3 linked regions of the Homo sapiens genome follow. The protein of the gene in region 1 purifies or fractionates together with the protein of each later gene. This does not show direct contact. Each region holds a gene or a part of one and is shown on either strand. Other genes may lie near its edges.

Region 1 (3,650 bases):
TGTGACAGTGGTTATCCAACCATATCCATTTGTCAAAATTCATAGAACTGTACACTAGAAAAGGCTGAATTTTACTGTATGTAGAAAATACCTTAATAAACCTGATAAAGAAACAAAGTATTAATGAGGTTTTTTTCTATGAGTACTTGAGCAAGCAGATTGTTAGCTTGCTGCTTTGAGAATCAGGAACAAACCCATGCTTTACCAAGGGACCAAAGAAACTCATGAGACTCACCCTCCTACTTATTCCCACTGTTCTTTTTCTTTAAATGCTTACCCTGATAAACTGGTAATGAAGAACTTAAACATTCTTTATCTCTTCAAAAAAATTAATGAAAAGATAGAAAGATATGTTGTAGGCTTTTGAGTTTCATGTGGCAAGGTCTTTACTTTTAGCAAAAACCATTTATTAAGTGATATCTGCCATTTAGCACTGGGTAAGACATTACTTTCTTAGCACGTCAGGCAGGACTAATAGATGCAGCACAAGCCTCGTTTTCTACCTCAAGGAGTTGCCATGAGAATCAGTAAAGGGTGTGTTTGTGTAAGCACTGTGTAAATTGCTAAATAAATGCAGGTGGTTTCATTGCCAAATACTTAACAAGCAAATAACTTGGATTTCAGTTTATAACAAGTTTATAACAAGCAAATAAACTTGGATTTCAGTATCAAAGAACAACCCACAAACATGGCATGGGTGAAACATATAGGAATGAATTACTTGGCTTACATCTATGTTTGGCCCCATTGCCTTTTTGCCTGGTGGGGAGAATCCGATGTCCAAGAGCTTTGCGCATAGCATGGAGGAATGGCAGGAATGAAATTTTACAGACTGGAGAGTGGGAGGAGACTCGGTGGAAAGACAGCTATTGGCAAAACTTGGAGTTAGGGGCTCTGAAGGAGTGAATCCTCAACAGTTTGTGTGTTTGTAGATGTACAAGTGTTTGTATAGTCTCTATGCTTTTATGAGGTAGGCTCTCTTGTTCTAAATGTAGGTGACCATTGTAGCAAATGTGCTGTTCCCCACACCAACCCTTTCTTCTGATACCTCCTCTTCCAGTGGTTTTGCACTGTAGTTCTTGATACATTTTTGTTCCATGTAACTGCTTTTATCTCACGAATATTGTCATGAACTCACTGATATCAATGGTAAAGTTTTAGATGAGAAATAATCTATTTCTCATCTTCTTTTAGGTACATACACACACAATTAGAAATCTTATCTTTTTCCCTCTTAGATTGCTATGTCATATGTCATAAAGAGGTACTCCAAGTTGAGCTCAACAAATATTTATTTGTGTGACTTTATTTGAAAATTTATTTACAGAGTATTACATAATGATAAAATGAATTCTACTGGCAACATGACCTTGGCCAGATCCCTTAATTAGCATCCCTGTTTCCTTACTTGCAAAATGCAGGTATTAATAATAGGACCAGTTTTGCTCTTGTCACTATATAGTTGTAAGAATCACAATAGCTTAGGAAAGCTTGCAGTCAGCTCTGAAGTTCTGCCCAAATACAAGACAGTGGTATTATTAATGGAATCCTTCTCATTATTTGTACTATTCCCAGAAGGGGGTACACTGATAAATTCTTATGTTTCCAGGGAGAGTCACACCGGGACAGCTCATGTCCTATATTCAGCTCTTCAAGAACAACCTCAAAGCTCTAATGAATCATTGTGGCCTCCTCCAGCTTGGACTGGCCACAGCTCAAACGTTGAAACACCCACAGACTGCCAAGTGGGACAACTTTCTGGCTTTTGAAAGGCTCCTTCTTCAGGTATGTTGCTATGGGAACCTCGTGGGATCTTAATAATTAATGTTTTGACTTCCAGAGAAAAACCTTGACATTTATTATAGCCTTAGTAATAAATCATATTGTTGACATGTGCCCTGCTTCATATTCTCTAAGTGCCCCCTAGTTAAAATTCAAGTAGAAACTTTTTTCACACCTGTTTAAAAAAAAATTTTGACAGTAACATCTTTGGCTTCTCATTTAATACCAAGGATGTTTTTTGAGCATTGGACTAACCTCTGGACACCTCTTTCAATTTTATGCCATTTGGACCTTTCTTGCTCTTCATGGCATCTTTATTTGATCCTTGCTACTTTTTCTGTAACATATTATCGCTATTTACATTTCTTCTGACATTACCTAGTTTCTAGTCCTTAAGCAACATATAGCATGTGTCTTAAAATGGCGTTTAGTAAAAAATGAAGGAAGTGATCTCCATTTGTAGTGTTTATACAGATATTTGTATGTGGGATAGGAACTTTTCATGACTGATGAAATATTTTCATGGGAAACTTTTAAAAAAATATGTAGTATGTGTTTTTTAAAATTATGAAGTATTTTTAAAAATTATACAGTACTTTAAAAAGGACAGAGGATTGTGAAGCATAAATGTACATAAAATGGCAAGTATCTGTAAACTTTCCACATAGACTCAATATGATTTATCATTATTTTCATATTTATCATGGATCCTTTTTCATTAAAGAAATAAAACTAGAGATAAAGTTGAAGCATTTTTGATACTATATAACCATCTCTAATCTGATTTTCCTTTTTCTTTCCCTAGAGATAATTACAAGCTCAATTCACTGTTTTTATATTTTTATTAGATGTTTGCTTTCTCATAAATAATATAGAGCATTTATGCTATGGGTTTTAATTTTACATAAGTGATATTATACTATAAATATCCCTAAATAGCTTGCTTTTTTCTCTCAAGGTTCTATTTTTTTTTAATTATACTTTAAGTTTTAGGGTACATGTGCACAACGTGCAGGTTAGTTACATATGTATACATGTGCCACGTTGATGTGCTGCACCCATTAACTCACGTCATTTAACATTAGGTATATCTCCTAATGCTATCCCTCTCCCCTTCCCCCCACCCCACAACAGGCCCCGGTATGTGATGTTCCCCTTCCTGTGTCCATGTATTCTCATTTTTCAATTCCCACCTATGAGTGAGAACATGCGGTGTTTGGTTTTTTGTCCTTGCGATAGTTTGCTGAGAATGATGGTTTCCAGCTTCATCCATGTCCTTACAAAGGACATGAGCTCATCCTTTTTTATGGCTGCATAGTGTTCCATGGTGTGTATGTGCCACATTTTCTTAATCCAGTCTATCATTGTTGGACATTTGGGTTGGTTCCAAGTCTTTGCTATTGTGAATAGTGCTGCAATAAACATACGTGTGCATGTGTCTTTATAGCGGCATGATTTCTAATCCTTTGGGTATATACCCAGTAATGGGATGGCTGGGTCAAATGGTATTTCTAGTTCTAGATCCCTGAGGAATTGCCACACCAACTTCCACAATGGTTGCACTAGTTTACAGTGCCAACAGTGTAAAAGTGTTCCTATTTCTCCACATCCTTTCCAGCACCTGTTGTTTCCTGACTTTTTAATGATCGCCATTCTAACTGGTGTGAGATGGTATCTCATTGTGGTTTTGATTTGCATTTCTCCGATGGCCAGTGATGATGACCATTTTTTCATGTGTCTTATGGCTGCATAAATGTCTTCTTTTGAGAAGTGTCTGTTCATATCCTTTGCCCACTTTTTGATGAGGTTGTTTGTTTTTTTCTTGTAAATGTGTTTGAGTTCATTGTAGATTCTGGATATTAGCCATT
Region 2 (3,650 bases), on another chromosome or scaffold:
CGGCTCCCTCCAGGAGCTGCATGTCCAGAGAGGGAAACAGGATGTGGACAGCAAGAATGAATACATGCAGACCAGTGCCCATGGGCGGAGGGCAGAAGAGACCGTGCCTGAAGCCTCATCCATCCTGTGCTCATCTGCACACGGTCAGCTTCTGTGGGTCCCAAGCCATTCTGCCCACACATCTCCTAACTGACGTTTGGGAGGCAGCAGCATCTCTCCTCCTCCTCGTGCAGCTGACCACCTCCAGCTCAGCTCTGAGGCTTCTCCCCTTCATTCTCCTCCAGCTGAATCTGAGTCAGAGTTTCTAAGCTGGAAGAGGACCAGGAGGCCTGGCCCTATCCTCTTAAGTTTTGAGCAGCAGAAAAGACAAAGCCTTCCGGGTTTTCACTATATGATTTCATTATTTTCAAGAGTTCCAAATTTGAGTATAAAATTACGGCCAGGCGCGGTGGCTCATGCCTGTAATCCCAGCACTTTGGGAGGCCGAGGTGGGCGGATCACGAGATCAGGAGATGGAGACCATCCTGGACAACATGGTAAAACTCTGTCTCTACTAAAAATACAAAAATAAGCTGGGCGTAGTGGCACGTGCCTGTAATCCCAGCTAGTCAAGAGGCTGAGGCAGGAGAATCACTTGAACCAGGGAGGCGGAGGTTGCAGTGAGCCAAGATCGCGCCACTGCACTCCAGCCTGGCAACAGAGCAAGACTGTCTCAAAAAAAAAAAAAAAAAAAAAAAAAAAAAAATTTCAAGAAAAGGGGATATTACCGGGGGGAAATGGCCTAGGGCTTTTCTTTGAAGAGTTTGGGGGCAGAGGTAACAAATTTTAGGGGAAAAGCAACACCTATGTAATTAAAAAATAAGCTTTTTTTCTCTAGAGGAATTTTCTAAGTTTGGGAGCATAAAAATACAAAAAACATTTGGCTTTATTCACAACGTATTTTGTGAAAACTCAGGAATAACTCTTTGAATTTTGGGGAAACCAACAACATTCTCAAAAACGATGATAATCAATTTTATTGTGCACCTCTGCACCCTGCCTCCATGGTCCCACCACCAGGTTCCCTCTCCTCCACAGTCAGAAGTTCCTCCCTGCATTCAAACACTGGGTCTCTTGCCGTATTTCCTTAATTCAATCTTGGTGACATGAAAGATGTATGATGAAATGAGCCTCGAAAGGGCTCAACACACTGGCTTGTTGGACTTCTTGGGCCTGCAGGGAGCTCCAAACAGATCTCCAGCCTCCCTGAGCCCAAGGGGCTCCTCCCCACCCCTCTCCTCTGTGAAGCTATCCTGCCTCACTGGGGCAGGTTAAACACTCAGGCTCTGCAGTCAGAGCCTTGGTTTCTGAATCTTGGTTCTGTCACTTACTAGTTCTGGCATCCTGGGCAAGAGACTAAGCCAAGCCTCAGTTTCCAAATCTGTAAAATAGGGATATTTATAGACTGACCCTTAGGGCTGCTGTGCTAACGCAATTAAATGATGAGCACTTAGGACTCAACAAACAGCAGCCATGATTCACGTTGTTATTGGAATCACCTGAACATCCTCCCCCAGCCTAGAATTTAGACACTGATGGAAGCACTAAGGAAGTTACCAGGAAACCTGAAGTTCTGAATTTAAGGAGGACTCTAAGAGCTCATCAATCCACATGGGTTTATCTAGGTCTAATAATCTATTTATTCCCATCCTCTCTGTCCTTTCACCAAGGCCCCATGACCCAGAGTATAAAGTAACCCAGCAGGCACAAAACAAGAGAGCAGGCCAGTGGCTTTCCGATGCCGGAGAGGGCATACAAAGAGAAAGGGCCCTCAAGGCCAACCTCTCGGGCAGGCCTGTGTGAGTGGAAGCTGAGGGAGGAGGAGAGCACCTTGGAGGAGCTCTAGCGGAGATGACATACCACTCCAGTTTTTGGCCATTTTGAACATGTTTGCTGCTCTGGCGTAGATTTCGCATGCTTCCTCTATTTTGGATGAGCCTCTGGGGAAAAAGGAAAGAAAAAAAGGAGACAATCTAGTCGGCTATCCAGGAGAAAGCAAGCATTCTGCTCCAGTGCCGGGCACAGACGTGCCCCTACCCCTCACCCTTCACCTGTGAAGCCAGCTTCCCCCAGGCCTCTTGAGTCTGTGGCCCCCGCCCCTGCATACAATGGCACACTCACTTCGGGCAGACCAGCTCCCTCCGGGAGTACTGGGGTAGATACTGGGTGCTTGCTGGGGTAGTGGGGCGAAGAGTTCCTGACCCCACCACAACCCCAGGGTCTGACAGCCTCTTCTACTTCCTGCCTGGGATACTAGGGGCCCACTGGGTCCCAGGCGCGCTACAAATCCCCTTTCCCCGGGAGACTGCAAAGCATTCTGGGGGACTAGCCCAGTTTAAGACATCGTGTTGCTTTCGCAGAGGCAGCCTTAATCCTGTGCCTTGCACTCTGTGGTTGCTCAATAAAGACCTTGCAGCCCTGGAGTGTGTCATTACCAGCTCAGGACTGGGCATATATATCACACAGCCATACAAAGAAATGGGAAGCACTATTTTAAAGTGTAGATATAAGATGTTCCCATTTGTGTTTAAAAAAAAAAGAGGGTGGGCTGGGTGTGGTGGTTCATGGCTCCTGTAATCCCAACACTTTGGGAGGCCAAGGTTGGCGGATTGCTTGAGCTCAAGAGTTCGAGACCAGCCTGGGCCACACGGCAAAACCCCAACTCTACAAAAAATACAAAAAATTAGCAGGGTGTGATGGTGCACGCCTGTAGTCCTAGCTACTAGAGAGGCTGATGTGGGAGGATCACTTGAGCCTGGGAGGCAGAGGTTGCAGTAAGCCAAGATCACACCATTGAACTCCAGCCTGGACGACGACAGAGCCAGACCTTGTCTCAAAAAAAAAAAAAAAAAAAAAAAGAGAAAGAGAGTGAAAATAATAGAAACATACATGTTTATATAAACATAGGATATTTCTGGGCAAATACACAAAAACCTAGTAACAGCATTTTTCTCTTAAGGTGAAGCCTGCAGAAGGAGGGCCAGGTGTGGGAGGCAGACTTATTCACTGGACATCCCGTATTTGTACTGTCTGAATTTTTTTTTAACTGTTTGTACATCTTTTCGAGAAAAAAAATATATACATATATACACACACGTGTACATATATACACATGTGTATATATGTGTATGTGTATATATGTGTGTATATATCTATACATTTACACATACACAGACACACACACACACATATTTTTAAGTATTAGGATTTATATTTGGCCCTGTGGTCCAGCAATGAATTACATCTCTAGCAATTTATCCTAAAAAAACTAATCAGAAAAGTTACAAGGATGTTCAGCATAGCATTATTTAAAACAGCAAAACCCCCCAAAAACTTATTGTCCAACAGTAGGGATACACTGGGAGATAGACAGGAATTTGAAAACATAAAGGGTACCCTGTTTGGGCAGCTTCACTCTGGCTTCTTGACCTCCACATGTACATAATGAGCCTCCTCTTGACTTGGGGGACCTCATTAGTACCTCAAACCCGTAAGTCCCACTGCATTCTTCTGCCCTTAATAATACAACCAGGCTTAGCCCGCGAGGTCTGTAGTCTCTGTAACTGCTCAAACTCCCAATATCTACATAATCAGTAGAATAAAATCCACAC
Region 3 (3,734 bases), on another chromosome or scaffold:
CACAGATGATGATGATAGCAGCTTTTTATGTTTATCAAACATTTATTAAGCACTGGGCATAGGGTTGCAAAATTTACCAGTGTTAAAACCCACAACCCTACGATGTAGGAACTTCTGTTCTCCCATTTGAGAGATGAGGAAACAGCTCAGGCTTAAGGAACTTGCCCAAGTTCACAGAGCCAGAAAGTGGCTCAATCAGGAGTTAAGCCCGGGACTCAGGGTGGGGCTGAGCCCAGATGACTGGCCTCTCCCCACAGGGCTCAGGAGGTGAAAGAGAGCCCCTTTTTCCGCTCCCTGGACTGGCAGATGGTCTTCTTGCAGAAGGTAACAGTCTGCGGCAGGGACTGGGGGTGCTCTGCAGCCCCACCCCCGAGCTAATGCCCATGACCCCTGTTCTGCTGCAGTACCCTCCCCCGCTGATCCCCCCACGAGGGGAGGTGAACGCGGCCGACGCCTTCGACATTGGCTCCTTCGATGAGGAGGACACAAAAGGAATCAAGGTACTGGGCCTTGCCTGGCCTCTTGTACCTAGGCTGTGATCCTGGCCTGGGGAAGGATCCCTCTCCCTTCTTATCACCTGTGAGACCCTGTGCCAGCCCTGCCAGCTTGTAGGCCTCAGTTCCTCCTTGGCCAACTTCCCTGGGGGGTGGCAGTTGCACTGACCATCCCTACCCAGGGCCCTGGGTCTGGGCAGCCTGTGGCTGATGGTATTCCGGCATCTCTGTCCACCCATGTGCCCCTGCCCCATCCACCTGGTAAAGTTACTGGACAGTGATCAGGAGCTCTACCGCAACTTCCCCCTCACCATCTCGGAGCGGTGGCAGCAGGAGGTGGCAGAGACTGTCTTCGACACCATCAACGCTGAGACAGACCGGCTGGAGGCTCGCAAGAAAGCCAAGAACAAGCAGCTGGGCCATGAGGAAGGTGAGGGTCGCCGGCTGCTGCGGCACCAGGCCCCTGCCTGCTTAGAAGTGAGCAGCTGGCTCGGGTTTAAGGAACTCACCCTGGATCACAGCCAGAAAGTGGCGGCTCTGGGATTCAAACTCAGGCTGGGGCCGGGCATGGTGGCTCACGCCTGTAATCCCAGCACTTTGGGAGGCCAAGGAGCGCAGATCACTTGAGGTCAGGAGTTTGAGACCAGCCTGGCCAACATGGTGAAACCCTGTCTCTACCAAAAAATACCAAAAAAATTAGCCGGGCATGGTGGCACGCGCCTGTACTCCCAGCTACCCGGGAGGCTGAGGCGGGAGGATCGTTTGAACCTGGGAGGTGGAGGTTGCAGTGAGCCAAGATTGTGCCACAGCCCTCCAGCCTGGGCAACAGAGTGGAGACCCTGTCTCAAAACAAAAAAGAAACCCAGGTGGGGCCGGCTGAGTCTCCTCTGTCTCTCGCCTCAGACTACGCCCTGGGCAAGGACTGCATCATGCATGGCTACATGTCCAAGATGGGCAACCCCTTCCTGACCCAGTGGCAGCGGCGGTACTTCTACCTGTTCCCCAACCGCCTCGAGTGGCGGGGCGAGGGCGAGGCCCCGGTAAGGAGCCCGTGCGGGGGTCCGGGAGCCGGGCTTCCGGGTGGCTGGCCGGCCCGGCTCTTACCTGCACCACCCATCCCTGGCCCTGCAGCAGAGCCTGCTGACCATGGAGGAGATCCAGTCGGTGGAGGAGACGCAGATCAAGGAGCGCAAGTGCCTGCTCCTCAAGATCCGCGGTGGGAAACAGTTCATTTTGCAGTGCGATGTGAGTGGGGGCTGAGCCAGGGATGGGAGGGCCGAGGGGCCAGGCCAGGCAGGCTGGGGAGAGCCCCAGCTGACAGAGCTGGGCTTGGCATGTGCAGAGCGACCCTGAGCTGGTGCAGTGGAAGAAGGAGCTGCGCGACGCCTACCGCGAGGCCCAGCAGCTGGTGCAGCGGGTGCCCAAGATGAAGAACAAGCCGCGCTCGCCCGTGGTGGAGCTGAGCAAGGTGCCGCTGGTCCAGCGCGGCAGTGCCAACGGCCTCTGACCCGCCCACCCGCCTTTTATAAACCTCTAATTTATTTTGTCGAATTTTTATTATTTGTTTTCCCGCCAAGCGGAAAAGGTTTTATTTTGTAATTATTGTGATTTCCCGTGGCCCCAGCCTGGCCCAGCTCCCCCGGGAGGGGCCCGCTTGCCTCGGCTCCTGCTGCACCAACCCAGCCGCTGCCCGGCGCCCTCTGTCCTGACTTCAGGGGCTGCCCGCTCCCAGTGTCTTCCTGTGGGGGAAGAGCACAGCCCTCCCGCCCCTTCCCCGAGGGATGATGCCACACCAAGCTGTGCCACCCTGGGCTCTGTGGGCTGCACTCTGTGCCCATGGGCACTGCTGGGTGGCCCATCCCCCCTCACCAGGGGCAGGCACAGCACAGGGATCCGACTTGAATTTTCCCACTGCACCCCCTCCTGCTGCAGAGGGGCAGGCCCTGCACTGTCCTGCTCCACAGTGTTGGCGAGAGGAGGGGCCCGTTGTCTCCCTGGCCCTCAAGGCCTCCCACAGTGACTCGGGCTCCTGTGCCCTTATTCAGGAAAAGCCTCTGTGTCACTGGCTGCCTCCACTCCCACTTCCCTGACACTGCGGGGCTTGGCTGAGAGAGTGGCATTGGCAGCAGGTGCTGCTACCCTCCCTGCTGTCCCCTCTTGCCCCAACCCCCAGCACCCGGGCTCAGGGACCACAGCAAGGCACCTGCAGGTTGGGCCATACTGGCCTCGCCTGGCCTGAGGTCTCGCTGATGCTGGGCTGGGTGCGACCCCATCTGCCCAGGACGGGGCCGGCCAGGTGGGCGGGCAGCACAGCAAGGAGGCTGGCTGGGGCCTATCAGTGTGCCCCCCATCCTGGCCCATCAGTGTACCCCCGCCCAGGCTGGCCAGCCCCACAGCCCACGTCCTGTCAGTGCCGCCGCCTCGCCCACCGCATGCCCCCTCGTGCCAGTCGCGCTGCCTGTGTGGTGTCGCGCCTTCTCCCCCCCGGGGCTGGGTTGGCGCACCCTCCCCTCCCGTCTACTCATTCCCCGGGGCGTTTCTTTGCCGATTTTTGAATGTGATTTTAAAGAGTGAAAAATGAGACTATGCGTTTTTATAAAAAATGGTGCCTGATTCGGCTGTCTCAGACTCTTTTTGTACCTGGTGACCCCTTTTCAGCTTCTGCTGGGCTGGGGCCTGATGGGGAGGGTCTCGGTGGTACCAGGTCTCCTCCACCGCCATGGCTTCCAAGGTGGTCTGCTCGGGCCCAGGCCATCTTCCAGGTGGGGTGAGGCAGTGGGTCCCACTTCCCCTCCTACCCCTCCCAGCTGACAGTCCTCTCCACCTAGTGGCTGTCCAGTGCCCATTCCTCACCTTTTCCCGGGGAGGAGAGAGCAGCTTCTGCCACTTCCCAGGTAAGCAGGAGGAGGTGCCAACAGTGTTAGGCCTGGCACAGTGTCTGGGCTGACTGGGACCGTCTCAGGCCCACAGAACACCCCTGCACAGCAGGCACCAAGCTGAGGCCCCTCCCCAGAAACAGTCACAAGGCACCTCTTCCCTCTAGGTCACACCGCAGCCTCTGGGCCCTTGGCCATCTCTGGCTTCAGCCTCCTCTCTGGCCTCACTGCACAGCCCTAGTAGGGGTCCCTGAGGCCTGAGGGGAACCCCAGCACTAGGCCTCTCCTCTACCCAGAGGCTTCTGGTCAACTTCCCTTTCCCCAGGTCCCTGCCCTAGCCCCGCGGGTGACTAAACAGATACAT

The links.
Region 2: the proteins of SCFD2 (region 1) and NAPA purify together in Homo sapiens (affinity purification with mass spectrometry; 2 studies listed by BioGRID and IntAct, with this or other methods). This does not show direct contact.
Region 3: the proteins of SCFD2 (region 1) and GRK2 purify together in Homo sapiens (affinity purification with mass spectrometry; one large-scale study listed by BioGRID and IntAct). This does not show direct contact.

The regions. Positions count from the first base shown.
Region 1 is NC_000004.12:53,271,961-53,275,610, reverse strand, and holds part of SCFD2 (sec1 family domain-containing protein 2), read left to right. Parts: intron 1-1,609; coding exon 1,610-1,785; intron 1,786-3,650. UniProt on the Homo sapiens protein: May be involved in protein transport.
Region 2 is NC_000019.10:47,501,524-47,505,173, forward strand, and holds part of NAPA (alpha-soluble NSF attachment protein), read right to left. Parts: intron 1,980-3,650; coding exon 1,900-1,979; intron 75-1,899; exon of another isoform or gene 1-74. UniProt on the Homo sapiens protein: Required for vesicular transport between the endoplasmic reticulum and the Golgi apparatus. Together with GNA12 promotes CDH5 localization to plasma membrane.
Region 3 is NC_000011.10:67,283,450-67,287,183, forward strand, and holds the end of GRK2 (beta-adrenergic receptor kinase 1), read left to right. Parts: intron 1-257; coding exon 258-324; intron 325-404; coding exon 405-500; intron 501-761; coding exon 762-924; intron 925-1,397; coding exon 1,398-1,534; intron 1,535-1,625; coding exon 1,626-1,739; intron 1,740-1,836; coding exon 1,837-2,001; 3' UTR 2,002-3,107; downstream 3,108-3,734. UniProt on the Homo sapiens protein: Specifically phosphorylates the agonist-occupied form of the beta-adrenergic and closely related receptors, probably inducing a desensitization of them. Key regulator of LPAR1 signaling.